Linked DNA regions of Homo sapiens. The protein of the gene in region 1 purifies or fractionates together with the protein of each later gene. This does not show direct contact. Each region holds a gene or a part of one and is shown in the gene's direction. Other genes may lie near its edges. The genes, in order: FAM114A1, N4BP1, SEC24D, RSU1 and TARS1.

Region 1 (6,617 bases):
AAGAGGCAGGAGGATCACCTGAACCCAGGTGGTCAAGGCTGCAGTGAGCCGAGATTGCACCATTGCACTCCAGCCTGGGCAATGACAGTGAAACTCTGTCTCAAAAAAATAAATAAAATAAAATAAAATAAAATAAAATAGAGTAGAATAGAATAGAATAGAATAGAATAGAATAGAATAGAATAGAATAGAATAGAATAGAATAGAATAGAAAATATTGATGCTAGGGTCCCAAGCCCAAGGATTCTGATTCAGGAATGGGGCTTGGACATCAGCAATTTTTAAAAGTACCCCAAGTGGTTGTAATGTTTGGCCAGGATTGAGAATAATTAGTTTAGGCTAAAGAATTTTCAAAGTCCTTTTTATGATTCTTTGAGTAAGTGGTCTTCAGTATCATTCCAGCTCTAAAATGCTGTGGTGCTACAATAACACTTCAAAAGTATCTGGAGACAAGCCCTTTCATTCTTTTGGCTACTAGGACACTTTTTCATCCATTGATCTTAGAACAACAACAATAGCAATAACAGCCACAAAACACATAGGAAGTAAAAGTGGGACATTAATAAGCCGCAGGTTTGGCAGTTTGCATGGTATTGGTGAAGAGATGGACCACTAGATTATGTCAAGAATCAGCCCAAATAGGAAATGGCAGAGTGAGGATTTGAACAGAGTCTTCCTGACTCCAGAGCCTGCTTTGCCTCCACACTGTCTGTCTCATGTAGGGAGCTATGGTTCCCAATTTTCATCCTAAGTGCTACTGTTAACAAATATCTTGGTACAGTAAGAAAAATATAACTTAGCCACACCATTATCACCTAAGATGACTTAAACTATACAAGCTCTACTAATTCAAAATCCATACTAATTCAAAATCCATATACATTCCAATTTCAGACATAATAATTATAACAGGACTGTTCATGAAGATAGCATAGTAAGGCCGGGCACGGTGGCTCATGCCTGTAATCCCAGCACTTGGGGAGGACGAGGCAGGTGGATCACTTGAGGTCAGGAGTTCGAGACCAGCCTGGCCAACATGGTGAAACCCCGTCTCTACTAAAAACACAAAAATTAGCCAGGTGTGGTGGTGCATGCCTGTAGTCCCAGCTGCTTGGGAGGCTGAGGCAGGAGAATCTCTTGAACCTGGGAGGTGAAGGTTGCAGTGAGCTGAGATTGAGGCAGTGAGCTGAGATTGAGCCACTGCACTCCAGCCTGGGTGACAGCGAGACTCTGTCTCAAAAAAAAAAAAAATCAGTATGCTTCTACCACATTTGCCTTAAATGTTTTGGTCAAATGGAATGAATCTTGCTTTGAAAACACCTTATAAACCTCCTGAATGCTACAGAAATTGAGCTGGTTGGTAACAGGTACTCCACCTTCCCCACCCCCTACAACACTGACAGCATTTCAAGGACCTTGGAAAGGGGAGAAATTCCTAATAATAGAGCACCACGGAATTACCTGGATGGAAGTGCAAACACTGGCCACAGAGTCGGGCCCGTGGCTCTGGATGTATTGTGTTGGGTCAGAAGCTCAGAGGGAACAAAGGAGTGGGGACAGTACCTGTGAGTTTGTTTTAAGAAGGGCAGGAAAGCCGATAGGTTGGCTGAAAGGGCCTGGAAGAGAGGATATCACTTTCACCCAGGTCTTATTTAAACCATTCTACGTAGGTGCAAATTTAGTCTCTTTTTAAAGATTACCAGGAAAGGGGATTCTACTGTCTCTCTTAGTAGCTTATCCTTTTATTAGAAGTCAATTTTATGCCTAGTCTTTGATTATTGTTCATTTTTTTCTATTTTATTTGCCTCTTGTTGCATACTCATAAGAAATCATTTTGCACTGATGAAAACAACTCTTTCCCTGTTGCTCCAGAGCAGAGTGAATTGTACAAAACAAATTCTTGAATCTAAAGTTCATTACAAGGTGGTTGTTTGGATTGAACACAGGCTGCCCCTGAGGAATGGCAGGTTCTGCAGGAAAATAGCCAAGTGCAAAAGCCTATTTGACCCCATGTACATCTACACCTGATAAATTCTCATCAGCCCTTTAAAAAAGTTTCTGACCAGGGCCGGGCGCGGTGGCTCACGCCTGTAATCCCAGCACTTTGGGAGGCCGAGGCGGGTGGATCATGAGGTCAGGAGATCGAGACCATCCTGGCTAACAAGGTGAAACCCCGTCTCTACTAAAAATACAAAAAATTAGCCGGGCGCGGTGGTGGGCGCCTGTAGTCCCAGCTACTCGGGAGGCTGAGGCAGGAGAATGGCGTGAACCCGGGAAGCGGAGCTTGCAGTGAGCCGAGATTGCACCACTGCAGTCCGCAGTCCGGCCTGGGCGACAGAGCGAGACTCCGTCTCAAAAAAAAAAAAAAAAAAAAAAAGTTTCTGACCAGGTGCAGTGGCTCACACCTGTAATCCCAGCACTTTGGGAGGCCGAGGGGACCGGATCACCTGAGGTCAGGAGTTCGAGACCAGCCTGACCAATATGGAGAAACCCCGTCTCTGCTAAAAATACAAAATTAGCTGGGCATGGTAGTGCATGCCTGTAATCCCAGCTACTCGAGAGGCTGAGGCAGGAGAATCACTTGAACCCGGGAGGCGGAGGTTGCGGTGAGCCGAGATTGCACCATTGCACTCCAGCCTGGGCAACAAGAGTGAAACTCCATCTCAAAAAAAAAAGTTTCTGTGAGGAATGCTTGCTTTACTAAAAAAAGAAAACGGGCAGAATAGACTTTGAGGACGTACTTCTAAGGCACATTAGATTTTGTGATAATGCGCATAAATGTGTGTGTGGTGTGTATGTGTATGCATATATATTTGTAAGTACCTGGATCTGGATCCCCTTAAAATCCACATCATTAGGCTCACATTTGCCTCAGGCAGCAAGGCCACCATAACTTGGCAGATGGGGTGTTGCGACTAGCAGGTGGCCAGAGTCAAGGAGGAGGCCACCTTTCTGGCTGGCACCTCTGTTTTTAAGGACCACACCATTTATGCACTCGGATAAACTATCTCTATCTTTAGGGCTTCTTTGCTTTCTTGTCCTTTCTGACATACAGACTCAGAAGCCATTGAATTGAGCCTTCTCCTGTAGGAACCCACTCTACAACCTCCGTGAGAAATGGTCCTCAGCATTGGAGGTTGGACCGGATTCTCTAAGGCCTCTGCCAGCATCATGACACAATGCATTATGCCCAGAAATCTGGGTGGTGTAACTATCTTCAGGATGCCTACAGTCTAGTTGGGGGAAACATTGTTGTATGAGAGCAATGATTACATGTCCTCTAGTACTAGATAGGACAGGCACAAGGGAGGCTTTAGACAGAGCATTTAAATTCGTCTTAAAGAATCAGAGAAGTCTTCAGCCTCAATTCAAAGATGTTTGTCTTGAGTACTGGTTGGGAGTAACATTTGTTCCCAGAGCTCTTATGGGACCTTATTATATACTAGCCAGTCAACCCTTAAAAGACCCAATCTAGATTAAATTTCTCTGAATTCTTAACACCAAGAAAGGTTACCCAGAATTTTTAAAATGTCATCCCTACTGCTCAACACCAACGCATAAGGCCGATTATGGAGAAGGTCAAGAATCCCAATGTTAACACTGTTGAGTACTCTCATGGGAAAACATGGGAGTGTGGACCACCATGGATAGTTCTCTCCCTAAAAAAGGAGAAGCAGAATGTTTAAATGCCATAAAGTTATGGTCAAGAGAGACAAGGAGTAGGGGACACAGGCTGAGACATGACAGCATTTAGCCTCCTAAACCGGATGAGCAGAGTTTTCTCCGGTTCTGTTTGAGTATTTTCCCTTTTTGGCCTGCTCTAAAAGGACAGAGTTCCCTACTGCCTACGTTCCTTATTCTGTGTTCCCTGAACGGTGACACCCAGTTTTGGCTTGGACAACCAGGTGGATGGAGGTGCCATTCTGCCATAGAGAGCAGTGCTTCCCAGATCTGGAGGTGTATTGGAATCATGTGGGGAGCCTGTTAAAAATTCAGATTCCTGGGCTCTACCCTAAGAGATTCTTAGGCACAAGATCATAGTGGAAGCTGAGACTCTATTTTTAATGAATTCCCCCAGGTGACACTCTTACAGTCAGTCTGTGGACTAGAGTTTGGGAACCACTAACACTAGGACACAGCAAGAGCTAGTTGGGGTACGGGGAATAATTGAGAAGATGGTGAGTTCAGTTGGTTTTTGGTTTTTGGTAGAGACGGGGTCTCCCTGTGTTGCCCAGGCAGGTCTGAAACTCCTAGACTCAAGCTCTTCTCTCACCTCAGCCTCCCAAAGTGCTGGGATTATAGGCGCAAGCCACCGCACCGGCCTGAGTTCAGTATTAAATATGCCATGCAACATCCAAGTGAAGATACTTTGTGGACAGTTGGTTAAAATGGTCTGGAGAGATAGGTGATTCAGAGGCTATCAGCACCTATGTGGTTATTTCAGTAATGGAAGTGGGTAAGATGGCTCAGGTGTTAACATATAAATAACAACAGAGGCCAAGCCCTCAGCCCTGGAAGGTTTCTGTCTCTAAGCCAGTTTGGTTGGGCACAGCTCTTAGGGTTTTGTTTTGCTTTTTAAATAGATTATGGTAGCTAGCAAAGAATTTATAGTACAATCTCACCACTACCACATTCTATAAGCGAAATCAAGTTTCAGATCACATTGTACCACACTGACATTTTTAAATGAAACGGTAATTAACAAGAGAGTTGAAAATGGTGTATGAGAACTCTTTCTCATGTAGGCTTGAGAACATCCCATTGTTTAGGTGCTTTGATCACCATCTTGAATGAAAGGTTTACTCAAGGCAACTGTCTGGATTTCAGAGCTAAGGTTTCTTCCCTGATAGCTGGCATCAAGTCACCAGAATTCCCCAGAGTTGAAAGATGGATGGAAGACCATTTACACAGGGCAAAATCCTTTGTAACACCCTATTCATATAAAACTGGGAGGAGCAGAAAATATACTTAACTATTTACACATCTTGAATACTTTTAAAAATTTTTATTTATATTTATTTATTTATTTGAGATAGGGTCTCCCTCTATCGCCAGGCTGGAGTGCAGTGGCATGATCTCGGCTCACTGCAACCTCTGCCTCCCAGATTCAAGTGATTCTCTTGCCTCAGCCTCCAGAGTAGCTGGGACTACCGGCATCTGCCACCATGCCAAGCTAATTTTTGTATTTTAAGTAGAGACCAGGTTTCACCATGTTAGCCAGGCTGGTCTTGAACTCCTGACCTCAGGTGATCCACCCATCACGACCTCCCAAAGTGCTGGAATTACAGACATGAGCCACAAAGCCCGGCCCCGTCCTGTTTTAAAAAAATAGTCTCTCTCTCTCTCTGTTGCCCAGGCTGGAGTGAAGTAGCAAGATCATAGCTCACTGCAGTCTTGAACTCTTGCATTCAAGTGATCCTCTTGCTTCACCTTACCAAATAGATAGGACTACATGTGCATGCCACCACGCCTGGCTAATTTTTTAATTTTTCTGTAGAGACCAGATCTTGCCATGTTGCCCAGGCTGGTCTTGAACTCCTGGCCTCAAGTGATCCTCCTGCCTCGGCCTCCCAAAGTGCTGAGATTATAGGAGTGTGCCACCGAAGCCAGCTCCTTGAATACCTTTATTTTTACCATCTAGAACCCCTTTCAGATATTGAGAATGCTAGTAAATAGTCCACCATGTGTACCAATTAAAACCCATTTTTGCAGTTAGGTGTGGTAATTGGTAAAGCATCAGATGTTACCAGATACAGATAATAGAACCTCTATAAATAGCTGCCTCCAGAGTATGGCTTTCCTGATTAGAATGCTGGCTGACCACCCTGGACTGTGCATATTTTATTGGAATGCTGACAGCACTTGGATTGTAGGTTAATTTGAGAAGCACCCATAATGTCACAATATGCATGTAGAAGCATTCTAATGTAAATAACTGAAATCATACTAAAAGATGGTAAAAAGGAAAAAAAGTGAGAGTCAGAAGATAGGCCATCAGAATAGAACACTCTAAGGCAGATGTAAAAGTGGGTGAGCTTTGGATGCTACCGAGAGGTCAAGTAAGTAATAAAAAGACTAAAATGAGTCCGTGGCTTTGACAACAGGAAGCCACTTGACCTTGATGAGAACGATTTCATGAAGTAGTGGCACAGGAGTCTTGCTGTGGAGGGAGGATGGACAAGGGAGGTGAATACAGAAGATAAGCACCTTTTTTTTTTTTTTTTTGAGACAGAGTCTCACTCTGCCTCCCAGGCTGGAGTGCAGTGGCACGATCTCAGCTCACTGCAACCTCCGCCTCCTGGGTTTAAGCGATTCTCCTGCCTCAGCCTCCCGAGTAGCCGGGATTACAGCATGCGCCACCACACCCGGCTAATTTTTGTATTTTTAGTAGAGACGGGGTTTCACCTTTTTGGCCAGGCTGGTCTCAAACTCCTGACCTCAGGTGATTTGCCCACCTTGGCCTCCCAAAGTGCTGGGTTTACAGGTGTGAGCTATGGTGCCCGGCCACTATAAGCACCTTTTTTAAGAGACAAAGAAGAAAGATGTGGAGCAGACACCAGATAAGTTTGAAAGACACATTTTGTTCATGTCGTGATTTTCATTTGTTGGCTTTAAGA
Region 2 (6,095 bases), on another chromosome or scaffold:
GAGCCCTCCATGAGGCCAAGCTTGTCCTTCAATCATGTTTCCTCTCAGATGCGTCCGTGATGCCTCCTAATGTGGAACTGGTTGTCCATTGTTTGGGCCTATGGCCAAGTCACCCAGCTGTGGAAGCAGAGGTAGAAGACGAGGCCAGCCAGGAGGGCGACTTCAGTCACAGCTCCCATGCCTCAGCTTTGTACCTGTTTTCAAAAGCACAACTGAGGTGTGCGGGCTGGAGCTGTCTTGCAGTGATTCTGGCCTTCTGGCTCATGGTTCAGTCCAGCAGCCTGGCTGACCCACTATTTCTCCTCTGCTTCAGAGGAAACCCAGGAAATGCCCTTACTGCCAGGCTGAGTCTCCACCCATGCTGGTTGGTGCTGGCTAGGCTGAGGGGGCCACCACTTTTCCTGGCTAGAAGCTACTTGACCTTTGATGTTTGAGTTCTGTAAGTCTTCGTGTTCTGACTTACTGCTTCAGAGGGATTGGCCTGTCCCCTTTCCCTTTCTCGGCTATGGGAAGGAAGGATTGCTCATTGGTTGCCTTCATCAGTTACAGCATGAGACGGAATTCATCATTCCTTCCGAAACCCCTGATATTTAATATTTAATATTTAAAAACCCAAATTATCAAACCATTAAGAACTCATTACTGGTTCTCAGCCTCCTCCAGTACTAGCCTCAGTGTGGCTGCTGCATAAGTATCTGTAGCCTGTCTACCTCCTGCAGTGGGGCCGCTCGCCTCTTCCCTGTCTACTGCTCAGGCTCTCCCACTTCGTGGCATCCATGTAAAGTAGGTGGCAGGGCAGAGATGTCACTCTCATTCAACAGGGAGGATGTCTGTTGCTCAGAGAGGTTGTCCTGAGGGGCTGGGTGATTCCTGGGCCTACATTCTTCCCGAGGCTCCAGGCCGCTGTCTCTGGAAGTAAAAGAGCCTTGTCTGACCTTAATGCAAGCAGTCTGTTTGAACCCCTGTAGGCTGCATTCAGGAGACAGAAGGTGTCTGGGCCATCCTGGGCGGCCGGTCAGCGTTGCTAGGCAGGCTCGGCTGTCTGGCCGGGACTTGGGCCTGGGTGGCTTTTGAGACCAGTGAAGAAGGGAGAGCCGGCCTCATGCCGATGCGGCTTGTGGCACGGCTGGGATGTGAGGGAGGACTCAGATCTACACACAGAAACCCCTCTTCTCCCCGCCCTCCCCCAGCTCCTACCTGCCTCCCACGCCTCAGGTGTGGCTGCCTGTGGGACCATCCCCCAACCCCTTTCCTCGCACCTCCTTGTCCTCACCCAGTTCCTGCAGTGTCTCTGACCCACGCCTCCCGCCTCCTGGCCGACTTGCCCAGGAGGTGTCTCTGGCTCACCTCCGTCTGTTCATCACCTTCCTCCCCAGTGTTTCCACTTATCTTGGATGTTTTAGATTGAAACAGCCTGATTCCCGGAAGAATCCTCTTCATTCATTGCTAGTGCTTCCCCTCACCTCCCACTCTCCACTTCCCAGTTTGCAAATGTGGCTTTCGCCCACCAAGTGAAAGCGGACTGAGAGCAGCCCTTGGGGACGGCCCGGTGCCTGGCTGCAAGGCCGCGCTGGGGCTCTGTCTTGGTGCACATGGCTTGACCGGACTTTCCCTGCTTCCCACCACTTCCCTCACTCCCAGACCTCCCTCATTCTTTTTGTCTCTTCTTTTTGCCTAAAGCCAGTCCTTAACACCCTATTCTTCCTCTGCAGGTGGCTTGCAGACTTTTCCCCACCTTTGGGGCTCGTGGTGGTGGAGAGGGCAGCTGGTGTTAAGAATGTAGGTTACCGGGCATGACCCGGCAGATGCTTGCCCAGTAGTTCTGGAGGAAGGCCCGGGAATCTGCAAATGAGCGCATTCCCCAGGCAGTTCCCATGCAGGTGATCCACGGACCACATGTTGAGAAACTGCAGTCACCCTTAGGGCCACACCGTCCCTCTCCTCGCTGTCCCCTCTCTGTAGTGACTGGCCCTGACCTTCAGGAGTGCACTTTCCACTCTACCAGGAAGCCCTATGACATCCTCAGGCTCCCCAGACCTGCAGCTTGCATGGGGCCCCTCCCTTCTTCCACACCCACCCTCCGTATGGTCCCCTGCTCTGCCCTCGTGCTTTGCTGGCCCCTGCCCGCTACTCCCACTCTCAGACACCCAGGGGTGGTGGGCCCTAACTGGCTGGCCCCTCCCAGCGCTGCCCTCTGCCGTCCAGATGCTGCAGTGTGGCCAGATTTACCTTCCAGTAACATACTTCTAGTCACCCCTCCTCCTGCGAAGTGATCTGCAGTGGCTGTTTGACCAGACCACAAAGTTCACATCTCCTGAGCTTAGTGTCCGTGGCTGTCCACCTCCCAGCCATACTTGACTGTCCCCAAACTCTCCCTGCAGCCACATGTTTCCCATGACCTGTGGGCTCTGCAGATGGACCTCTCTCCGCTAGAGATGCCCTTCTCCCAAATGGCTTCCCTCCTGGAAGGCCCAGCCTGAGTCCTCGTCTCCTTTCCAGTGCTTCTGCCAGAAGCATCCCCATGATGTTGTGACCGCACAGCACTTTGTGTCTCGCTTTGAGCACTTGCCACTCTGGCTGGTGCTGCTGCCACTGATTGTGTACTGTCTTGCTGCCCTTTCTAGACTGTGAGCTCCTCGTGGGCAGGGACCGCCTGTGTTCTCTGTATTTCCCACGGCGCCTAGCACAGTGCCTTGCACTTGATAGGTGCTTAATAAATGTCTGCTCAACTGAACTGGAGGACAGTGCCTTCTTGACTGCGGCATCTGGCAGCAGGACCAGTAAGAGGCCGGGAATCCACTGCCCTGCAGTGGGACAGTGGGGTGGGGCTGGGGTCACTCCACTCCCTTCTCCCTCCCCTGCCAGGCTCCAGCACATGGCATCCTGGGCACACAGGTCCGGGGAGGGGTACCTGGCGCAGGCTGCATACTAGATGCACTCAGGCTTCCTGGCCAGGGCCGACAGCCGGCCCAACCTATGCCAGTCCAAGTCACTCCTGGGGAGTTCCTCTGTGGTGGTGGGAATCGTGGGATGCCAGGCCCAGGTCTGTCAGAAGCCATTTTCCACCCTGGGGGAAGTCGACCTGTGGCAGGAAAGAAGCGGCGACGTGAGAGAGGTTCCTGGCAGCATGAGCCTTGGGTTCCTGTTGTCAGGAAAGCCCTTCCTCGGACGTCACCACACCCCAGTATTCTAACACACTTTTTGCTTAAGCTGGTCATTCCAGTTGGATTTACGTCCTTTGAAATCGAGTCTTGAGTAACACGTGTTACTGTCTTTAGCAAGGATTTGCAGATTGTTTAGAAAGGTCCAAAGACCTGCACAAACAGGGCTTCAGGAGTATCCACCCCAGTCAGAAAATGCTGGAAGGGGCCAACTATTTCGGAGTTGAGTAACTTGAAACTCAGGCCTGGTGCCCCTCAGCAGAGAACTCGGCCTGGCTCTCGAGCTGTTCCCTGCTGCCGTGGCTCTGTGCCCATCCCACTGCCTCTTCAGTCCCCTGACGGCAGTTCTTTTCCCCAGTTCCCTAGTTGGGCAAATGCCAGCACTGTTCATTTGGAGTTTGACTTTCTGTATACTTCAGAACTGTAACTAAGCATTATTTTATTATGCCTATTTTACAGATGAGGATTTCCTCACCTGTAAAATAGGCATAATAATGCTTTCTACTTCAAGGGTGACATGAGGAATAAACGTGGTGCTTAGAACTGTGCCCAACCCAGAGCCCCGCTCAGTGACTGCTACTGGGGCTCTGATCAGCAGCCCTGCGGACACCTACCTAACTATTCGCCACCCTTCCAGGTCATCCCACACCCCCACCAGCCAGGTCTTATCTCCAAGTGCTAAGCCGTCATCCTCCAGGTTCTGAACGCACTCCTTTATCCCTGTGGTCCAATGATGAGGGTGCTTAGGTTAGGGCCTACATTTCTTTCAGTGCCTCAGCAGGGCCATGGGAAGTCCAGCTGTTCTAGAGAGGGCATTGTTCCTTGAACAAGGCAGGCACTTGGGAGAGTCCCTCGGGTGCCGTCACCAGAGAGAGCACCCGGAGGAAGTGAGCACAGCCACTGCCTGCCTGCAGGGTGCTGAGAAAGCTGAGGCCGGCAACCAGTGTCGTGCCCTCACCACCCATGTGCCCGGCAAGCTTCTGTCTCCTTTAATCCTCACCTCACTCCTAAAGTGCTGCTGTTATTATCTCCATTTTGCAGAGGAGGAAACTGAGGTACAGAGATGCTCAGGAACTTCCATTTCTTCAAGCTAAGATGTCCAGGATTTAGGATTTGAATTCCAATGGGCCATCCCACCTCCCTGAAAGGCAAAGCTGCACCAGAGGTGACTCAGCAGCTGGTATGGCACCTAAGATACCTCCACCCTTCAAGGAAAAGAATTGAGGGCCCATGACAGACCTGGGTCAAGGCTGTCAGTCTTCAGGGCACAGGGAGGCTGCGGAAGGAAGCTGCCTCCCCACTTCCTGCTTGGTGGGCCCGTATCCAGCCCTGTTCCTGCGAGAGGATGCCAAGAGCATATTTTTTTAAAGAAGTTGACCAGTTCTGCAGAAGCTGTGTCAGGAGTGAGCCCATGTATGCATCAGAGCCACCTTGCACTTCATTTCGGGAAACACAGATGAGTTGATGTTGATTGGAAACTGTACGTGGCCTTTTTCCCGGCTCAGGTTCCAATCCCCTACACACCGAGGATGCCAGGGCTGGGGGCATTCACTGGGGAAATGGACTGGGCAGGCAGGGATTTGCCCAGAAACAGAGCAGAAGTACCCACAGCCAGTGCTGGAGCCAAAAGCCCAGAGGCTTAGGGCTTCTTAAACCAGCCCCCTTTCACCCCCTCCTGCCTGGTGGCTTCAGCTCCCAGAGTCACAGGACTCCAAACCGCAGACTCCAGCCTTTGGGGCTTTCCTTCCCCAGCCCCGAGTCCCCAGGGAGCCCTGCTTGGCCCCACAGCCTGAAACCCAGTCTGGGGTCAGGCCTGGGCAGGCCCTGTCCTCCCCTCCTCCCTGCTTCTAGCGAGAAGAGGAGGCGGCGGCCTCCCCCAAAAAGAATGCGCTTGTCTGCCCGCCTGTCTGGCTCCTGGATCAGTCTAAAGTTTCAGCCACCAAAACAGGCAGCAGGAAGAAGAGGGCCTCCCGCAGCCTGCCCCTAGCAGCTGCGCACGTGGGCTTGCTCAGGGGACTTCCCCCAAACCAGGGTGTCTCTCAATGCCAGCAGGACCCTCTCCCCTTGCCAGCCCCTCAGGATCCCTGGCATGTCACACCTCCACTCTGAGAAGGGCTGGGAACCCTTACTTCTTCCCACTGTGTGGCTAAGGGACATGAGGCCCAGCCGGTGAGGGGTGGGGCCCAAACCCCTCATCCCCTCCGGATGCTGCACCTTCCCAGCCCCTCCAGGGTTCCTCCATCCCTGGTCTTGAGCAGCCACTTCATGCAGGGGACAGTGCCAGGGAAGGGAGAGAACAACCAGAATGGCCCTTCTTCTGAAGGCCTCATGCCCAGCCAGCCCGTGGAGTGAGGGCATCACCTGCTCCTGCACTTATTCTCCGTGACCTTGAGAAAGTTACGCAGCCTCTCAAGGCCTCGGGCCCTCATCTGTCAAGGGCTAGTGCTGCTGCCCTCAGAGCTGGTGGTCTGTGACCCTGGCTGTGCACTGGGATCCCCAGGGGCAGCGCTGCCCAGGCCACACCCCAGACCCTAGAGATCAGAATCTGACATCCACGTTTTCTGGTAATCCCAAGTGACCCGGCGTGCCCTCATGGTTGAGAAACACCTCCCTACTAAAGAGTAGTTGCAATGGTTGCAACCAGGACTGAATCCTAAGAAACGGGCCTGGCTCCTGGGAGAGTCCTTCCCATCCTGAGTCCCACGGTGAGGAAGGCACCTTTGCACCCAGGCCGGTGAGTGTTCCCTAGAATACATGTGGCTCCAGCGAGGGTCCCTCAGGGCCTCATCTGACCTTTGGTGGTTTTCAAATCCCAGGCCCTACAGAGGCAGGACACAGAGTGGGGCACGGAGCAGGGGAGGCCAGGACCCCTCCGGCTCCCTCCTGGTTCCTGAGTACCAGTGGGGCTGGCATTGGCATCAGGTGTTTCTCCCG
Region 3 (6,617 bases), about 80 Mb from region 1:
CGGGCGGATCACGAGGTCACGAGATTGAGACCATCTTGGTCAACATGGTGAAACCCTGTCTCTACTAAAAATACAAAAATTAGCTGGGTGTGGTGCTGCGTACCTGTAATCCCAGCTACTCGGAAGGCTGAGGTAGGAGAATCACTTGAACCTGGGAGGTGGAGGTTGCAGTGAGCCGAGATCTTGCCATTTTACTCCAGCCTGGGCGACAAGAGCGAAACTCCGTCTCAAAAAAAAAAAAAAAAAAAATTAAACTAATTTGTATGTTTAAGATGTTCTTTCATCTCTTCCCTCATTTATGTGAGGCATTTATATGAGGGGTTTGTTAGCCATTTAATACTATTCTATTTATTTTAAAATTGATAATAATTGCTTTTAAAAACCAAATCTATTTAAGACTTACCATATTTAAGTTGGTCAGAAAGAAATAATTTATTTGTGAATTTCTGAAACCTAACTCCTGGGGTATATGTTAGGCACTGAATCATAAGTAGGCATTTATGAGTTGAAAGTAATAACTGATGGTTATATAGTCTCTCATTCTCTATTTTAAATCCTTAACCTTTGTTAAGTTAAAAAAAATACTTGAAGCTGCTTGTGTTATAACTCCTGTTTGAAATATATTTTGTCCTACCTGTATTGTAAAAACAAAAAATGATTCACAGAACTGTATATTTAAAAGTACTAGCATTTATGAAACACCTTTGAAAATGTTTTGGGGAGGTTTTTTCTCCATATAAATGCAACATCCCCAGTTTCTGCTTATCAAATCCAACATCTGTAACCATACCTCATTGCATCCATGAATATATTCTATAGTACATGTATATTCTGCCTGTGTGTAATTACTTCATTTATTCCCTATGACAAACTTTTTTTTTTTTTTTTTTTTTTTTGAGACGGGGTCTCCCTGTGTTGCCCAGGCTGGAGTGCAGTGGCGCGATCTTGGCTCACTGCAAGCTCCGCCTCCCAGGTTCACGCCATTCTCCTGCCTCAGGCTCCCAAGTAGCTGGGACTACAGGCGCCCACCACCACGCCCGGCTAATTTTTTGTATTTTTAATAGAGACGGGGTTTCACCGTGTTAGCCAGGATGGTCTCGATCTCCTGACCTCGTGATCCGCCCTCCTCGGCCTCCCAAAGTGCTGGAATTACAAGCATGAGCCACCACGCCCCGCAGACAAAGTTTTTTTAAAAGACGAAAAAGTATTATTTCTTAAAAAGAAGAAATGTTTTCGTCTTAGGAAACAATGGATTTACAAAACAGACCTTTAATGTAATTCTTGAAATCATTTTTTAGTGATCACAACATATTTTAAATGTGTCATGCAGGACTAGAATTATATTTTTTGTGCTTGTGTTTCACCAGTGTCATTAATTGATTAGAGATATAAAGAAAACTTTTACTGTGAAAAGTTAATGTTTGTATTTTCTATCTTTTATTCATTTTCTTCCAAAAAGTATTTAAGTCAAAGGGTGCTTAGCCTAACTGTGTTGGGCTTTTTGAAAAGTTTGACAGGAGAGAAATTGGATAGTTTTGTTTAACAGTATTTTTGGGTTACAATGTTATTCATTCCATTATTTCTAGCCAATTTTCTGCTATAGGATAGCTTGTACTTGTGCGTACAATGGAAAGAATGGAAAGACCATTTTCTTTTTTTTTTTTCTTGCAACATGTATTTTATTAGGCAGCCTTTCTGTATCATTACAGAAGAGTCCTAAATTATAAAGTCAATTCCGGCTACCGATAAAACATAGACTGCAGAAATAAGCTGTTCAGAGGTATGAGTGGAAAAGAGCATTTTCATCACTCACCTATTTATCTCAAAGTGTGAGATACTATTCTGCAAATATGCTTAATGTCATGCACTCAGAGTAATGGTTGGAAGGTTAATTTTCTGTTTTGTTTATAATAATTATTCAATTTAAACATATGGAGAAAAATGACAAGATAAAATTAGTGTGATGCTTTGAATAGTGCACTCACTGAAGACCTGGAAAAACGCTGGTCCTAGTGTTGTCACAAATAAATTGTGGGACTTCAGGCAAGCACTGGCTTCCCTCAGGCTCTGCTCCTAACCTCTCAATGGCAGTAGGGGGCAGAAGGCAAGACATGGGCCATGGGGAAATAGTTTCCAGTTTTCAGATAGAGAAATTGAAATCAGAGTATACCATTTGGGAAAACTTAATTTAAAATTTAAAATTCATAAGAATTTATAATGTGACTCTCAGGCAGGCTTTAATCGCATTTGGCAGATTAACCATGCTAGGCACATTGTCCAGATAGCGGCCATTGTTTAATGCAGAACAAGAAAAAATAAACGTCTAATAAGTTCAAGCTAAATCAAAGGTAAAGCATGATGTAATTTTTAGATTTTTTTTTTTTCTCTTTGGGACAGGGTCTGGCTCTGTTGCCCAGGCTAGAGTGCAGTGGTGCAGTCTCAGCTCACTGTAGTCTTGACCTCCTGGACTCAAGTGATCATCTTACTTCAACCGCCCAAGTAGCGCCACCACTCCTGGCTAATTTTTTATTTTATTTTGTTTTATTTTTTGTAGAGAAGGGGGTCTCACTATGTTGCCCAGGCTGGTCTTGAATTCCTGGGCTCAAATTGTCCTCCCACCTCAGCCTCCCAAAGTGCTAGGATAATAGGCATGAGCCGCTGCTCCTGGCTGTATTGTTTTCTTGATTTTCATTCTGTTGATGATTAACTTTAGTATAGATAAGGCTCTGGTTGGCTCAGTTTCCCAAATTGATTTCCAGAACTGGTTTTATGCTCACATTAGGATTTTTTTTTTCTGTCTTGGCATGTTCAGCATGTGAGCATAAATATAAGATGATGCTACATGATCATATTGAGTTCATGTCAAGCTTAATTAAAGATTTAGTATATAATATCAGTCATTTTCCTAGGCCTACTAGACAGGCTTAATTTAATTTTACAAGCTATTAACATTATTGTACGCCATTTGCTTGAGACGCTGTGATATTGTTTGACATCCTGTTTTCCTCTCTCAGATTTCCAGGCCCTCCACCTGTCAACAATGTGGCATCCTCACATGCACCATACCAACCCTCTGCACAATCTTCTTATCCAGGTCCTATATCCACTTCATCTGTCACCCAGCTGGGCAGCCAGCTCAGTGCTATGCAAATCAACAGCTATGGTAATAGTTTTATTATTAGTGTTTATTGACTGCCTTGTGTCCTGGTCATTTTTAATGAGAGAGGTTTTCTTCATTTTTAAAATAGATGTAACTAGGGCATACTGTGTTGAAGTAGTATTTGGACATTTTTAATAATAAAGCATCTATCTTATGTATGGCTATAGTTAATTGTTTTCTTGATCATGCTGCCACTTATTTCAAGGTAATTGAAGGACCCTCAGAATACCTTCCATTCAATGATTGAACAATAAGAAAAGACAAAAAATGCTGATTTCACAAATAAACATTAGAATAGTGAAATTATTTTAAGAAATAAATAAGGATAATTTAAACCTTGTATTGTTTATGATGGGGCCCCCAAATCAGAAATATAGTACTCATTGTTTCACAGTGCATTTTAATTATGTGTTTAGATCATGGAAAGAGTGGAAGCTCAGATGTTGTGAGGCAGAAAAGAGAAGATAGGAGAGGAAAGAGTCACAGTACTGAGATTTACATCAACAGAAATGCTGTATATCCTGTGAGTCATGGAAAGCTCCACTGTAATGACAGCACAGTCGGCCATTTATCTAGATGAAGAATGTTTCCATGTTACTTAAAATTAGTTTTCTGAAGTATCATTAAAACCCCTCTATTTTCTGTCTTTTACTCATTTCAAAATGGATAAGTCTCCAAAGAAGCAACCCAGTTTCCCATAATCAGAGAAAGGAAAACATAATCTGGTTTTACAGCTATTTCCAATATGATTGGAGAGCATGTTGGTGGCCCTTCTCTTGTCTCTGGTTATTTCTACCTAATTCTGAAATTTGTTTGGTCAAGTCACGCACAGGATGCAAATAATTTATTGAATGTGCAATTTACCTGAGTAATGCTTGTTATGTAATAGAATTTTTATATGATTTTCTAGATTTGTACCAGATACAGATGCTTTAATTAATGCATATATCATGTAATTACACAACTGAGTTAAAATTTATTCTATGAATTCCCTTACTTAAATTATAAATGTTGCTTTTACCTTTTAAAAATTTTCCAGGCCAGGCATGGTGGCTCACACCTATAATCCCAGCACTTTGGGATGCCAAGGAGGAAGTATTGCTTGAGCCCAGGAGTTTGAGACCAGCCTGAGCAATATCACGAGACCCCAACTCTACAAAAAAAAAAAAAAAAAAAAATGAACTTGGCGTGGTGGTGTGTGCCTGTAGTCTCAGTTACTTGGGAGGCTGAGGTGGGAGGATCACTGGAGCCCAGGATGTTGAGGCTACAGTGGTCCATTATCTTGCCATTGTATTGCAGCCTCAGTGACAGAGCAAGACCCTGTCCTTAAAAAAAAGAAAAAATCCCAGTTGTATAAAATAGCGTTTGTTCTATTTTCTGAATGAAGATTTCAATTTGTGGCAAAAAACCCAAACATGTGTTTCTAAGGGTGTCCTCTTGCTTTATGTCAGGAAAACAAACATCTCTGTCATGTACTTTGCAGAAGTCAGAGAGTTGAGAAATGTGGTATTTAAGTGGGCTGGTCTCCTTTCTCACACAGGTTCAGGCATGGCTCCTCCAAGCCAGGGACCCCCTGGCCCTCTGTCAGCCACATCATTGCAGACTCCTCCACGACCTCCACAGCCTTCCATTTTGCAGCCTGGATCTCAAGTTCTTCCACCACCACCCACCACACTCAATGGTCCTGGTGCCTCACCTTTGCCTCTACCAATGTACAGACCAGATGGGCTCTCTGGGCCTCCTCCTCCAAATGCCCAGTACCAGCCCCCACCTCTTCCAGGCCAGACCTTGGGTGCTGGATATCCTCCGCAGCAGGGTAAGGCGGACAGGGTGCAGGGGAAGGCTTTGTGTTACCCAGGGGAACCCTTAACTGAAAATCAGCTTTGTTCCTATGTTACTAGGTATCTGTCACTTACTTTTAAGAAATGGTAGTTTTTGAAGAGTTTTGGCAAGAGCAAAGAAATGGGGAACCACACTCATACTTGACTCCTTGCTTTTTTTAATAAGATGAAAAATACAACATGCTTGACTGAACAGCATAATATCGTCAACAAGTCTTACATGCTGGATTTGGGATGATAGTCATTTCTCTTTAAATTTTTTCCAAGCAGCCAACTCTGGTCCCCAGATGGCAGGCGCACAACTGTCTTACCCAGGAGGCTTCCCTGGAGGTCCTGCACAGATGGCTGGTCCGCCACAGCCCCAGAAGAAGCTGGATCCTGACTCTATCCCTAGCCCAGTAAGTACTCTTCTCACTCTCACAGTCTCACTCACAAAGGAGCATTAATTTTTCTCAGCAACTCATCAGTTTGTTAGCATTTATCCTGTTCATTAGCATAGAAGTTAGGAGATACTCATCACATAGAGGGAAGGCTTCCTTCCTTATATGCATGTATGGGGGAAAGCATGCTAGGGTTATGGGCATACTAAAGGTCTCCATGAAAGAGCAGCCTGTGCTGATTTTTTTTTTCTTTTTTTTTGGTGTCATATAAACTTGGCAGTGTCTACAATGTTTACATTGACATATTTTGGCAGTATCGCTATCTAATGAGTAATTAACAGACTATATCCTATAGAAATATGCTATTTTAGATAACTAAAGGATCCTTTTCAATAAGAGAAACCCATAGAGACTGAAAGTATATTTTACATCTTGCACAATAAAAAAACAAATTTTTTTTAATGTAAAGTTAGAACTAAACTCTTCACTCAAGTGATTTCTTTGGAGGGTTACTCTTTAATAATTTTATCAGTCAAGCTTTGCAAGGCCATTCTGCATAGCAAACAATCCCCAACTTTGCTTACAACTGCAAAGATGTATTTATCACTCAGTTTACATGTAGGCTGTGGCAGCTGCAGATTGGATTTAGGCTCTGCTTCATCCGTCCTTATCATTCCAAAATCCAGCGTGAAGAGGCAAACACTACTGAGGACATGCTATTTTGTGGCATAGGGAGGAAACAGAGCTGGCCAAAATGTGCAACAGCTCTTAAAGCTTCCACTCATGTGTGGCATGTGTCATAACCACTCATGTGCCCTTGGCTGAAGCAAGTCATAAAACAAAGCCCAATGTCACTGAGACAGGGAAGCTGCCAATCTTATGGCATTGGGATGTAAAATCCTTTTGGAATAATAACGAAATTGGCTACAGTTTATTTTGTGTCTTTGAATAGGTTCGATAAACATAAGTACTTGAAGAATTAGAAATAAAGGAGCAGGAAAAGCTACCATATTAGCTAACTTATGCTGTGTAACCAACTGCTACAAAACAGTAGCTTAGCACTACTGTTTATTAATACTCATGACCCAGTGGGTTCCCGGTTTTTCTAATCTGGGCCAGGTTCATCTGATTTTGGCTGAGCTTGCTCATGCATCTGGGGTCAGCTGGAGGCTTGGCTAGAGTGTGGATGGTTTAGGATAATGTATTAGTTTCCTGTGGCTGCTGTAACAAATTACC
Region 4 (6,617 bases), on another chromosome or scaffold:
GATCTCTGCTCACTGCAGCCTCCACCTCTTGGGTTCAAGCGATTCTCCTGCCTCAGCCTCCCCAGTAACTGGGGTTACAGGCGTGCGCCACCACACCTGGCTAATTTTTATATTTTTAGTAGAGACGGGGTTTCACCATATTGGCCAGGCTGGTCTTGAACTCGTGACCTCAAGTGATCCACCCGCCTTGGCCTCCCAAAGTTCTGGGATTACAGGCGTGAGCCACTGTGCCCGGCCTTAAAATTATTTATGTTTTCACTCCTCTAGGTTGTGTGTATGTGCCCACCTTTCTGTTTTTAAACACGCCGCTTCTTGGCCTGGGGAGCCCTTTTCGTTTTTCTCGCTCCAGCTAGCCCTTGCCCCCTTGTCAGTTAGTGCTTGTTGAAAGAAGGAAGGACTTAACTATTCACATGACTCCATTTCCTGTGACCTCCTCAAGGAGGCCCCTCGAGAATACTCAGTTCTGACCCACCATCCCATCCAGCCTAGCTGAAGTGTCTCTCTACTTGGCATAGTACTTGGGAAAAATTTATTGAAGAAGGAATGTTACTGCTTTTAGTTAAGAGATTCAGGTTGGCTAAGGGAGAAAGCATAGCTCTGGAGAAGGAGCATGTACTCTGTCTCCTTCCTGCAGGCTTCTCCGCAGTTTCCAGAGGGAAGCAGTTTCCAGCTATCAGGAACAAGATGGAACTGACAACTTCTATTTTTGATTGTATGATAGGGTTAAAACTGGAAATGCTTCATTGAAACAAAGAAGAGGTGTAGCCCCTTTGGCATGACTGAATCGGTAATGGCATTTGACTTTTTGTCAGTCCTCTGACATTCTGGCTCTAGTGGCCCTGGTGGCTTTTTTGTAAGCATCTTTTTTGTTTGCTACTAGCTGTGTATCCTTGGGCAAGTTGCTTGACCTCTCTGTGCCTCAGGTGCCTCATCTATAAAATGGGAATAATAAGAGCACCTCATAGGGTCATTGTGAATTAATATCTATAAGGGCCTAGTGTACCACCCGGTACCTGATGGTCTTAATACTTGCTATTATTAGAACACTCATGCATTACTTAATGGTGGGGATACGTTATGAGAAATGCATAATAAGATTTTGTCATTGTGTGGTCATTCCCAGAATGTCCCTACACACACCCAGATGGTGTAGCCTACTACACACCTGGGCTAGATGGTGTGCTTGTGACTCAGGCTTTTGCTCTTAGGCTACAAAACTGTACAGCATGTGATTGTATGGAATCCCATAGGGAATTGTAACATGATGGTGAGTGTGTGTGTCTTTATACAAAAACATACAGTAAAAATATAGTACATTATTGTTATCTCGTGGGACCGCTGTCATATTTGTGGTCCATTGTTTGTTTGTGTTTTTGAGACAAGGTCTCACTCTGTTGCCCAGGCTGGACTACAGTGGCATGATCTTGCCTCACTGTAGCCTCGGCTTCCTGGGCTCAAGTGATCCTCCCACCTCAGCCTCCCAAGTAGCGTAGATTACAGGCACATGCCACCACTGCCGGCAAATTTTTGTAATTTTTATAGAGATGGGGTTTCGCCATTTCTCCCAGGCTGGTGTTGAACTCCTGGACTCAAGCGATCTGCCTGCCCCAGCCTCCCGGGTGGTTCATTGTTGAGTGAAACATTATTAAGCGGTGCATGACTATTGTAAAAACCATTTTATCTGTGATGGTGTAACAAGTGCAAAACAATATCTTTATTTCTTGGAAACGTTGGTGATGGTACTTCTCAGTGGTCTTTGCCCACCTGTCCCATGGTCTTGTCAAACCAGCACACCCACTGCCTTATTCCTCACCTGAGTCAGAATTCCCAGGAGAAGTTGGGCGGCTGGGCCCAGTGTGCTAGGGTCAAGAGGAACAGCCGTTGCCACACACTGGCGAGTTCAGAGCTGTGCATAGCCCGGGGGGCGGCTGCTGGGGGAACAGCAGCAGGATTTTCGTTGGGATGTGCTTGTGGCCAAGTTTCTGTTGAGAATGGCAGACATGCTTTGAAAACTGGTAATTTTTCCACTAATAATTAAAATACTCTGTGTCCTGCAGTAACTATTTATTGAATGTATTTTTTTATGATAGGCATTATGTAACCAGAGTTCGTTTGGGAGTTTACATTGAATTTTTTAATTTCTATTTTTTTATTTTTTTATTTTTTGAGACACAGTCTCACTCTGTTGCCCAGGCTGGAGTGCAGTGGCGCGATCTTGGCTCACTGCAACCTCCGCCTCCCAGGTTGAAGCAATTCTCCTGCCTTGGCCTCTGGAGTAGTTGGGATTACAGGTGCCAGCTACCATGCTCCGCTAATTTTTGTATTTTTGGTAGAGATGGGGTTTTGCCATGTTGGCCAGGCTGGTCTTGAACTCCTGACCTCAGGTGATTCACCTCCCCCCCCCACCCCCGGCCTCCCAAATTGCTGGGATTACAGGTGTGAGCCAATGTGCCTGGTCTTATATTGAATTTTAAAATTATCTACTGAGAAATTATTGTTTGTTATGTTAAGATGACTATAAGGTGTCTATTACATGTGAAGTAGTTATATTTTCACCATAAGAACTATAACACTCACTGCTTTGCCATTATAACCAATGCTACAATTGGTATGGATAATAATTGAAAACCATACCCTGTATTATTTATTCATAAATTCACATGAACCTAGTTGAAAGAAAACACAATCTAGATACAGGAGATCCATTGTTAGAGAAAAGACTAGAGATGACTTTTTTTTTAATTCAGCGTAAAGACCTCTTCTTTGGATAGCAAGTTTGTGCAGGTGGGTTAATTTTTTTATTTTTTAAACCAAAGGATGATGTAAAAATGTGGCCAAGGAGCATTTGGTCTAGATCAAGTGTGTGAGCAGCAGGGGTCAGTGTTGAGCCTCTGTGTTTTGCTCCTGGGCTCCCTGGGAGGCTGGACACAGCTCGTCTCATCTCCACACAGAGCTTTGCTGCCTCTACAGTTCTTCCACCTTCATTCGCCAGGTTCTGTCTTTGGGTAGAGAGATGGAGTCTTAATGGCATTTTATCTGTGTAGCTCACAGTGAAAGAAATCTCACGTATGTTACAGTCAACCAGAGCATCTTTGAGGTTGGCATGTTTCACAGCTGCCTTGCATGTGGCCTCTGAATAGAGAAGTGCTGATCAGAGCATGTTTCCAATCAAAGGAAATGGAATTTGCAGTGTCCCCATTGAGCAGATTCCATCAGCGTGTGATGCTTAATGCTGTAAAACAGTATTTCAGGTTTGAGGTGCTAGCAAAGCCCAAAAGGCCAATAATAGGATTAATAGTACCTACTTTGTTAATGTCCTACGGCTGCAAAACAAAACACCGCAGGCTGGGTGATTTTGACAACAGAAATTTATTTCCCACGGTCCTGGAGGCTGGAAGTTCAAGATCATAGTGTCAGCAGGGCTGGCTGCTCCTGAGGCCTCTCTCCTGGGCTTGCAGGTGGCCGTCTTCTTGCTGTGCTCACATGATCTTCCCTCTGCATCCCTGCTGTCCCTCAGTCTGTTCAGTTTCCTCTTCTCATGAGGACAATAGTCAGATTGGGATAGGGTCCACCTTAAGGACCTCATTTTAACCTGATCGCCTCTTTAAAGGCCCCATCTCCAAATATAGTCACATGTTGAGGTATTTGGGATTGGGGCTTCAGCATATTAGTTTTGGGAAGACATAGTTCATTCCATAACATCTAGATTAGAGGTTCTCAAATGATACAGACCTGAGTGCCTACTCTGTGGTAAGTGCTTCTCACACTCATAACATCCCTCTTTGGTTCACCTACCGTCAGCATTTTATAGATGAGAAAGTAGAGAGCTATGGAGGTTCTATAAAGTCCCCAGTGTCACTCAGGCAGTGGTGGAAACGGAGTTCACTTTGTTTTTTTTTTTTTTTTTTTTTCTTAAATGGAGTTTCACTCTTGTTGCCCAGGCTAGAGTGCAGTGGCATGATCACGGTCACTGCAGCCTCCGCCTCCCAGGTTCCAGCGATTCTCCTGCCTTAGGCTTCCAAGTAGCTGGGATTACAGGCACCTGCCACAACGCCTGGCGAATTTTTTTAATTTTAGTAGAGATGGGGATGGGGTTTTGCCATGTTGACCAGGCTGGTCTTGAAATCCTGGCCTCAGGTGATCCACCTGCCTTCGCCACTCAAAGTGTTGGGATTACAGGTGTGAGCCACTGCGCCCGGTTGGAGTTCACTCTTGAGTGTGTCTGAAAGGTTTGCTGTGTGATACTGTGCTGTGTTGTATCCTAGCCCCGAAGGGCTCACCAGGGCCAGGCTTGGATGCCAAGGAGAGGTGACTCCTAGGGCCTGCCTTACCGTAAGGCATTCATTTTCAGAATTCTTTTTTTTTTTTTTTTTTGAGACAGAGTCTTGCTGTGTCACCCAGGCTGGAGTGCAGTGGCGTGATCTCGGCTCGCTGCAAGCTCTGCCTCCCAGGTTCACGCCATTCTCCTGCCTCAGCCTCCCCAGTGGCTGGGACTACAGGCACCCGCCACCAAGCCCGGCTAATTTTTTGTATTTTTCGTAGAGACGGGATTTCACCGTGTTAGCCAGGATGGTCTCAGTCTCCTGACATCATGATCCGCCTGCCTCAGCCTCCCAAAGTGCTAGGATTACAGGTGTGAGCCACCGTACCTCGTCTCAGAATTCTTTAAAACACTGTGTTAAGCAAATAAAATAGTGTTATTGGGCTAGCCCTGCCAGCTTGGAAACTTGGGTTTACAGGATGGTTGCAGAGCTTTAACTGTTGAAGAAAACATAAGAAGCAACTTAATCTCCATCAATATTAGCAGAACCCTCCCCACTTTCTTTATGGTTTCCTGAAAAACTATTAATCTCAATAGAATGGAATGATCAGATGTGAGATCTTTGTATACCGTATGTTAATTCATTTTCTTTTGTCTTCAAACTTAGAACATTAGCTTAAAACACTACAAAGTATGGGGCTGGAAAAGATTGTGTTGGGGAAATATTGGTTCATGTATCAAATAGAATAAACCTGAAGTACATTAAATGGTAGTTTTAGTTATAGTATCCATACCTCATAAAGATCCTTCTTATTTCATCCGTTTCTTTGCATATCCATTAATTATTCCTTTGGACTCTGTGTAACTTATAATTTTAAGGGTGAGGCCAAATGAAAGGCACACATCAGAACAAGCAATTACTTGCAAGGAGGTTTCGCCTCTTAGTTTTTCAGGACACAGTGCAGACCGGAGAACGGTAATGTGGTTTGCAATCTCAGTGTTTGAATGGTGGTCTATGTAACTTGGTGTTCTTAACAGCTGTAAGTGAGGCTGGGCGCAGTGGCTCATGCCTGCTGTAATCCCAGCCTGACTCATGCCTGCTGTAATCCCAGCGCTTCCGGAGGCCAACGTGGGTGGGTCACCTGAGTGAGGTCAGGAGTTTGAGACCACCCTGGCCAACATGGTGAAACCCCCTCTCTACTAACAATACAAGAATTAGCTGGGTGTGGTGGTACATGCCTGTAATCCCAGCTACTTGGGAGGCTGAGGCAGGAGAATCACTTGAACCTGGGAGGTAGAGGCTCCAGTGGGCTAAGATCACGCCATTGTACTCCAGCCTGGGCGACAAGAGTGAGACTCTTTCAAAATAAATAAATAATGAAACAGCTGTAAATGCTTAAGTCTTTAGGGCGTGTCAAAGATGCCTATGTAATTTATTATATGTTTGTATTCTACAACGTTGTGCACTCTTTGTTAGGAGGATGAAAATAATAGATAATATGATTGAAATACCATGCCATCTATGCATGGAGTGTATTAATATAATACACGCACACATTTACCACATACCAGGCATTGTGCTAAGCCCTCTGTATGGATTAATCTTTCAAACCTCACAATGTATTGTCATTATATAGTTAATAGGTAAGGAAACAGATTTAAGGAGCATCATTAACTTGCTCAAAGTCACCCAGGCAATAAGTGGTAGAGCCCAGATTTGAAGCCACACCTGCAGACGTCGGAAGCAGTGTTCTCAGCTTCTCCTGTTTTGCCTTACTGGTTTCTGACAGTCATATGCACATACCCTGTGGAGGAGATGAAGATAACGGCTAATTCAGCGAGCATGCTGAGTGCCTGTGGCCACCCGGTCATGTTCTAGAAGCCATGGTAGCTGTCCTGTCTGGGCTAATGATTCTGTAACAATTTAGGAATGCATTCAGGGACACTACCTATGTTTATCCCATTTGAACCAGGGAAACAGGAACCTTCATCTTCCCAAAATACTTACACATAGTTTTAAAAAAATCTATTCCAAAAAACCTTATTGAAGTATTCGTATCGATAAGTGCATAATGACAGTACAAGTTGACAGATTTTCAAAGCAAGAAACATTATCAGTAGGTTGGGAGCTGGTGCTCCTCCTAGTCACTCTCCCTTTAAGTCCTGAGACTGCCAGCCTCCTGAGCTTATACTGGTAGTTCCAATGGAAATACATAACAGAATGCAAGGCTTTTACTTAACTCCTCCTTCTAGTCCTCATCTTGACCTCCCTTCCACTCGGAAGCGTGCCTCTTACAGATATGGGTGATGATAGAATTGGAATATCTCACAGTCTCAGATTTGGTACCTGACACGC
Region 5 (6,064 bases), on another chromosome or scaffold:
GTCCTGAAAGCGAAAAATAAAAATGATTCTTTTTTTCTTTCTTTTTTTTTTTTTTTTTTTTTTTTTGAGACAGAGTCTTGCTCTGTTGCCCAGGAGGCTAGAGTGCAGTGGCGCGATCTTGGCTCACTGCAAGCTCCACCTCCCAGGTTCACGCCATTCTCCTGCCTCAGCCTCCCGAGTAGCTGGGACTACAGGTGCCCGCCACCACGCCCGGCTAATTTTTTGTATTTTTAGTAGAGACGGGGTTTCACCGTGCTAGCCAGGATGGTCTCGATCTCCTGACCTTGTGATCCGTCCGCCTCGGCCTCCCAAAGTGCTGGGATTACAGGCGTGACCCACCGCGCCCAGCCAAAAATGATTCTTAAATTTTTAAATAGTTGGAAAAAATAAAACAACTAAGAATATACAACAGAGACCATGTTTGGCCTGCAAAGTGTAAAATATTTGTGTGGCCTTTTACAGAAAAAGCTTGCCAATCTTGGTCTTAAACACTTCAACTTAAAATATGTGAATATGTATGTATTCACTAACTTTATATACATACATAAAACAGTGAATATATATATGTATGGCAAGGTTTGGGGGATAGCGAGTGCTAATTAGAGTTCTTACATTATCTTAACACATACGAGAAGTAGTCTGAGCACAGAATCCTTGCAGATTTTCATGTAGTTGTAGAGTTACACCTAACTTGACAGTGTTTTTGTGTGTGTGACTTGGATTTATCAAGCCTTCTCAAACATTCAACTTGGTTTTCATAGAATCCATAATTCCCTTATTGTGTTATTTTATAATTATATATTTTTGAAGTTTATTTATAAGTGTTATGTATTGAATTGAACCATTTGGAATCACCATATGAATTGTCATGTGGTTGATTATCATCAATTTTGTATTGTTGAACCAAACACGTAAAAGAACAAGCACAAAAACAGTTTGGGGAACCAACGTGGCTGATTCTTGGTAAGCGTATTATACAACTAGTAGAAGCAGAACCAGTTAGGCCTATGAGCCATGAGCATCTACTGTACCACAGACATTAGTTAGTACTTTTTACAAAGTGAATGGAGTGTTTCCATTCATTTGACAAGTGCTTCTACCTACAAGTTCTTCTACCTTACTCCAAAGGAAGTAAAAAGTTGTAATACCATGCAAGTTTCTATGTGAGAGCATAGAGAACTGGATAGACCTTTACGTATCAGTTCAACCTTTCATTTTAGAGATAATTTTGAAGGTCAGGTTGATTAATAGATTCCTCTGTTGTCACACAATGAGATTGTAGCCGTGTCATTAAAATTTAGGCTTCTGTTAGTTTGGGAACTTTTTCCTCTACCTTCTACAATGTTGATCTAGATTACATTGTAATTTATCAAGTCTTCAGTTGAAAAATATTCTTCAAGAACTATAAAATTCTAAGTTGAATTACATAGCTGGGCGTGTTGGCTCACAGCTGTAATCCCAGCACTTTGAGAGGCCAAGGCAGGCAGATCACCTGAGGTCAGGAGTTCAAGACCAGCCTGGCCAACATGGCGAAACCCTGTCTCTACTAAAAATACAAAAATTAGCCAGTCATGGTGGCGCACACCTGTAGTCCCAACTACTTGGAGGCTGAGGTGGGAGGATAGCTTGAACTCGGGAGGTGGAGGTTGCAGTGAGCCAAGATTGAGCCACTGCACTCCAGCCTTGGTGACAGAGCGAGAGTCCGTCTCCAGGGAAAAAAATAAAAGGTTGAATTACATAAAACATTGATGGGCTTTAGCTCTGGAGTTAAGTCACTGATCTGCACTGAGAATACTTTATGAAATTTTTACAAAAGTCCAGAATAACTTTTTGTTCTGTGAAAAATTATAACATTGATAACAGGCTATTTAAAGATTCACATAATTAGTGGTGAATATGAAAGGGAAGGACAAAAAAGACATGTTCCATTTGCGTCAAAAGGTTTTTCTTTGAAGTTTTGTTATAAATCTTTTTTTTTTTTTTTTGAGACGGAGGAGTCTCGCTCTGTCGCCCAGGCTGGAGTGCATTGGCGCCATCTTGGCTCACTGCAAGCTCCGCTTCCTGGGTTGACGCCATTCTCCTGCCTCGGCCTCCTGAGTAGCTGGGATTACAGGCGCCCGCCACCACGCCTGCCTAATTTTTGTATTTTTAGTAGAGACGGGGTTTCACTGTGTTAGCCAGGATGGTCTTGATCTCCTGACCTCGTGATCCACCCGCCTCGGCCTCCCAAAGTGCTGGGATTACAGGCGTGAGCCACTGCGCCTGGCCGTTTTGTTACAAATCTTAAAGATTATTTTACCCTTCTTTGAAAAATTGAAATGATCCAGTATGGCCCATGTGTAATCTACATTTTCAGAGTAACTCTATTCTTAGAATCTTGGGGCTCCATATTGGATCATAAGATAAAAGTCATGTTCTTCCCAAAGAATATAGAGAATATGATTATCCTTTTTATCAGTTCTTTAATCTCCTGAAAACTGTTTTACACCAATATGATGAAATACATTTCTCTCTGCCAAATTCATGTTATGTTTTGTGAAATGCATGTATTTATTTTATTGACTCCATCTGATCTCAGGAGGAAAGAAAACATTGTTTATAACCTATGGTAAAGTTAGTAGGAGCATTGAAAATAGAAAGGAGTTTGTTGTTTACTTTCTGTTTGGTTCTTTTCTCTTGATCCTCAGATAGGAGTTGTATACATTTTGTTGTAAACCCTTAGACATAGAGAGCCACCAACACAGCAAGCCTGGCTAGCTTAAAGCCTTCTAGTGGTAGGTTTCTTTGAGATTTACAGTGTAAAGGGTGTATACTTTTTCTTCACAGTGTAGAATGTTGCCTACCTTCGTTGAGATGTCCAGGCTGTTATAGACTATTATTTCTCTAGCTGTGCATTTAGATGTATAATCTGGCTCACCTACTCAACTCTGCTCTAGTCACACAGCTTCCTGCAAAAACCTCTCTTCACTTGCATCTCTGCTTGCATCTGTGGCCATTCCCTCATCTGGAATGCCATGGCCTCCTCTTTTCTTCCTGTGAGTGCTTTATCCTCAAAGCCTTTCCAGATGACTCTGACCTGTACTGCTTTCCCTCCTCAGAACTCCTGTAGCTTTTACACTCTGTGTGCTCTGATATTTCATCACTTGATGATACTTTATGTTCGATGTTGTATATTGGGTGTGTAATGTTTTTACTCACATTATATGGAAAGTTTTATTAAATAGTCTTTCATTTTACCTCTATATTTGTTATAAATATTATCATAGGCATTTGCAGAATTTATTCTGAGGTTAGCATTGTCTGTCAAAGAAAGGATCTGGTGTACATTTTAAGCAGGAAGAGGAACAGAGAAGTTATTTAGTAGGCCTTTTTTTTTTCCTTTGGAGTCTACATAGCTTAGCTTTGTAGAAAGAGAAAGGTGGGTGTATTAAGAGAAAACTCGGTGTGGTGACTTGTGCCAGTTGTCCCAGCTACTCTAGAGGCTGATGTTGGAGGATTGCTTCAGGCCAGGAGGCCAGCCTGCGCAACATAGCAAGACCCTGTCGCTAAAAAATTAAAAAAAAAAAAACTTATTTGTTGGAGAAATTAAGATTATTCAAACCATTGGAAATTGATAGTGCTTATTTATCAGAGTTGCCATATCTGCTTAAACAGGAGGCATTCAATGTCAAATGATAATGTTCTGCATTTTCAGGATCTTCCAGTTAGGTTCTTAGGTACATTTTTGGAATTTGTTGTTTTTATCATTATATTTCAGAAAAATAGAGATACATCAATATAAAAAAACAATATATAATAAAAATAGTGTTTATTTTCCTGTTTTCAAATTAGATTCGTGTGTACTTATATATGTGTGGACTTTTTTTTTTTTTTTTTTTTTTAAGTCAAGGCCTGGCCGACAACACCGTTATTGCTAAAGTAAATAATGTTGTGTGGGACCTGGACCGCCCTCTGGAAGAAGATTGTACCTTGGAGCTTCTCAAGTTTGAGGATGAGGAAGCTCAGGCAGTAAGTTGCTGATTAGTATTCATTGAATTTTAGGATGCAGATTCACATTTGAAGTCTTTTCCAGCTCAGTCCTGCTGCGATTGGGTGGCTAACATTTATTGTTGTCTCACTGTCATATTTGAAATCTTCATTTTGTCCTTCATTTAGGGAACATAATAAAAGTGCTTGCCTTAGAAAATAAAGGGGTGAAGCTGAATAAGTCTTTTCATTACTAGACACTTCAATAGGGAAAATGTTTTGGGAATTGTATTAAACATTGATTAAGCAAGTAAAAATTGTTTTCTAAACTGTGAACACTATTTTATTTTAATTTTTTTTTTTTTTAATGATGGAGTCTTGCTTTGTCACTCAGACTGTAGTGCAGTGGTGCGCTCTTGCCTCAGTACAACCTCCACCTCCCAGGTTCAAGCTATTCTCCTGCCTCAGCCTCCCAAGTAGCTGGGATTATAGGAGCGCACTACCACACTTGGCTAATTTTTGTATTTTTAGTAGAGATGGGGTTTCACCATGTTGGCCAGGCTGGTCTTGAACTCCTGACCTCAAGTGATCTGCCCACCTCGGCCCCCCAAAGTGCTGGGATTATAGGTGTGAGCCACTGTGCCTGGCCTCTAAGCTATGAACACTCTAGCAAGATATGTACATTTGACAAATAAATTTGAACCTTACTTCAAAGCACTGCCTTTATTGGATAATTTCTGTATTTTTTTCTCATCTTAAGATGCAAATCTGCTGGATAACACTATAAAAGTCAACCTGCATGTGATGACAAGATTTTCTTTTTAATTCTCCATGGCTGTGTATCATATAAGGGGAGACAAAGTATTTTGTTTTAGTGATGATTGTTCACTTATGTATGTGGATTAGTGGTTTTCAAATGTATTTTGGAGCCCTCAAGTTTCTTACGAGAATTTTTTAATGTCACTTTGGTACCTTAATACTAAATCTTGAAAACATTGCTTTGGGTGTATTCTGACTCATCCCAGTGATTACTTTAAAACCAAGTACTGCCATTTGATTTCAGTGTACAGATGTTTGTCCTCGTGTTTTGTCATTGTGTTGTGGGGTCGGGTTGTACCACCTTTGTTTTGGGCCAGTAACAACATGTAATTTCTAAGTGATGTTCCATAGCCAGCTAAAGGCCAGATCACAGTGTCTGAGACATGGTGCTGTGGGCACATTGACTCAAAAGAACCTGGGCCATTGCAATCAATGAGTTAGTCACATTGTGAGTAGCAGTTGTTTTCAGAGAACAAAGTCTATGTCATTTAATTAGTGATGCCAAGTTTAGTTTAATTTGTTTGAAAACAGCTAAACCAGATGATTTCCAAAATAAAAATACACTAGTAATTGGAAGCCTTTTGAATTACTTTGGCTATGGATAGAAACAGTAGTTTATAGATTTAGAAATTTAGGATTTTATATATTGGGTTTACTTGTAGTAAATATTATCATCTGTCTCTTTCAGACAACCACATTAATTGGCAACTTGTATGCCAAGACTCAGACCATGCCATTTTTCTTTAAATTTTCAGGTGTATTGGCACTCTAGTGCTCACATAATGGGTGAAGCCATGGAAAGAGTCTATGGTGGATGTTTATGCTACGGTCCGCCAATAGAAAATGGATTCTATTATGACATGTACCTCGAAGAAGGGTAAGCCATCAACTAGATAAAGAAAACTGAAGTCAATGACTATGGATCCATAAGTTATTCTTAAGAGTTCTCAGTAAGGGAGGAATGATATAGATCTCACTGCTTCTTCATCAGGTATGCCCATTATCAGTACTTGAAGTGTTGCAATTTACCTGAAGTAATAGAGGATTTGATGAGACCTCTGTTCTAGATTGATGGAGGTAGAGTCCTAAGGTATTTTGGGAAATTCAGGGAGACTGGTCCTCCCCTCTCCTTTAAAACCTGGTGATAGAGTTGCGGGAAGGGGTCACTAGTGAGAAAGGTCTCCATGGATGACCAAGGTAGAAGCTACTGAAAATATAAAATGTAAAAATTACTTATGAAAAATGTTTTGTTTAGAATTCTAAGATACGATGCAATAGT

The links.
Region 2: the proteins of FAM114A1 (region 1) and N4BP1 fractionate together in Homo sapiens (co-fractionation; one large-scale study listed by BioGRID). This does not show direct contact.
Region 3: the proteins of FAM114A1 (region 1) and SEC24D fractionate together in Homo sapiens (co-fractionation; one large-scale study listed by BioGRID). This does not show direct contact.
Region 4: the proteins of FAM114A1 (region 1) and RSU1 fractionate together in Homo sapiens (co-fractionation; one large-scale study listed by BioGRID). This does not show direct contact.
Region 5: the proteins of FAM114A1 (region 1) and TARS1 fractionate together in Homo sapiens (co-fractionation; one large-scale study listed by BioGRID). This does not show direct contact.

Annotation. Positions count from the first base shown.
Region 1 is NC_000004.12:38,879,965-38,886,581, forward strand, and holds part of FAM114A1 (protein NOXP20), read left to right. Parts: intron 1-6,617. UniProt on the Homo sapiens protein: May play a role in neuronal cell development.
Region 2 is NC_000016.10:48,535,365-48,541,459, reverse strand, and holds the end of N4BP1 (NEDD4-binding protein 1), read left to right. Parts: 3' UTR 1-2,734; downstream 2,735-6,095. UniProt on the Homo sapiens protein: Potent suppressor of cytokine production that acts as a regulator of innate immune signaling and inflammation.
Region 3 is NC_000004.12:118,813,810-118,820,426, reverse strand, and holds part of SEC24D (protein transport protein Sec24D), read left to right. Parts: intron 1-3,014; coding exon 3,015-3,163; intron 3,164-4,700; coding exon 4,701-4,976; intron 4,977-5,268; coding exon of another isoform or gene 5,269-5,271; coding exon 5,272-5,399; intron 5,400-6,617. UniProt on the Homo sapiens protein: Component of the coat protein complex II (COPII) which promotes the formation of transport vesicles from the endoplasmic reticulum (ER).
Region 4 is NC_000010.11:16,805,780-16,812,396, reverse strand, and holds part of RSU1 (ras suppressor protein 1), read left to right. Parts: intron 1-6,617. UniProt on the Homo sapiens protein: Potentially plays a role in the Ras signal transduction pathway. Capable of suppressing v-Ras transformation in vitro.
Region 5 is NC_000005.10:33,449,405-33,455,468, forward strand, and holds part of TARS1 (threonine--tRNA ligase 1, cytoplasmic), read left to right. Parts: intron 1-2,936; coding exon of another isoform or gene 2,937-3,035; intron 3,036-3,884; coding exon 3,885-4,008; intron 4,009-5,540; coding exon 5,541-5,662; intron 5,663-6,064. UniProt on the Homo sapiens protein: Catalyzes the attachment of threonine to tRNA(Thr) in a two-step reaction: threonine is first activated by ATP to form Thr-AMP and then transferred to the acceptor end of tRNA(Thr).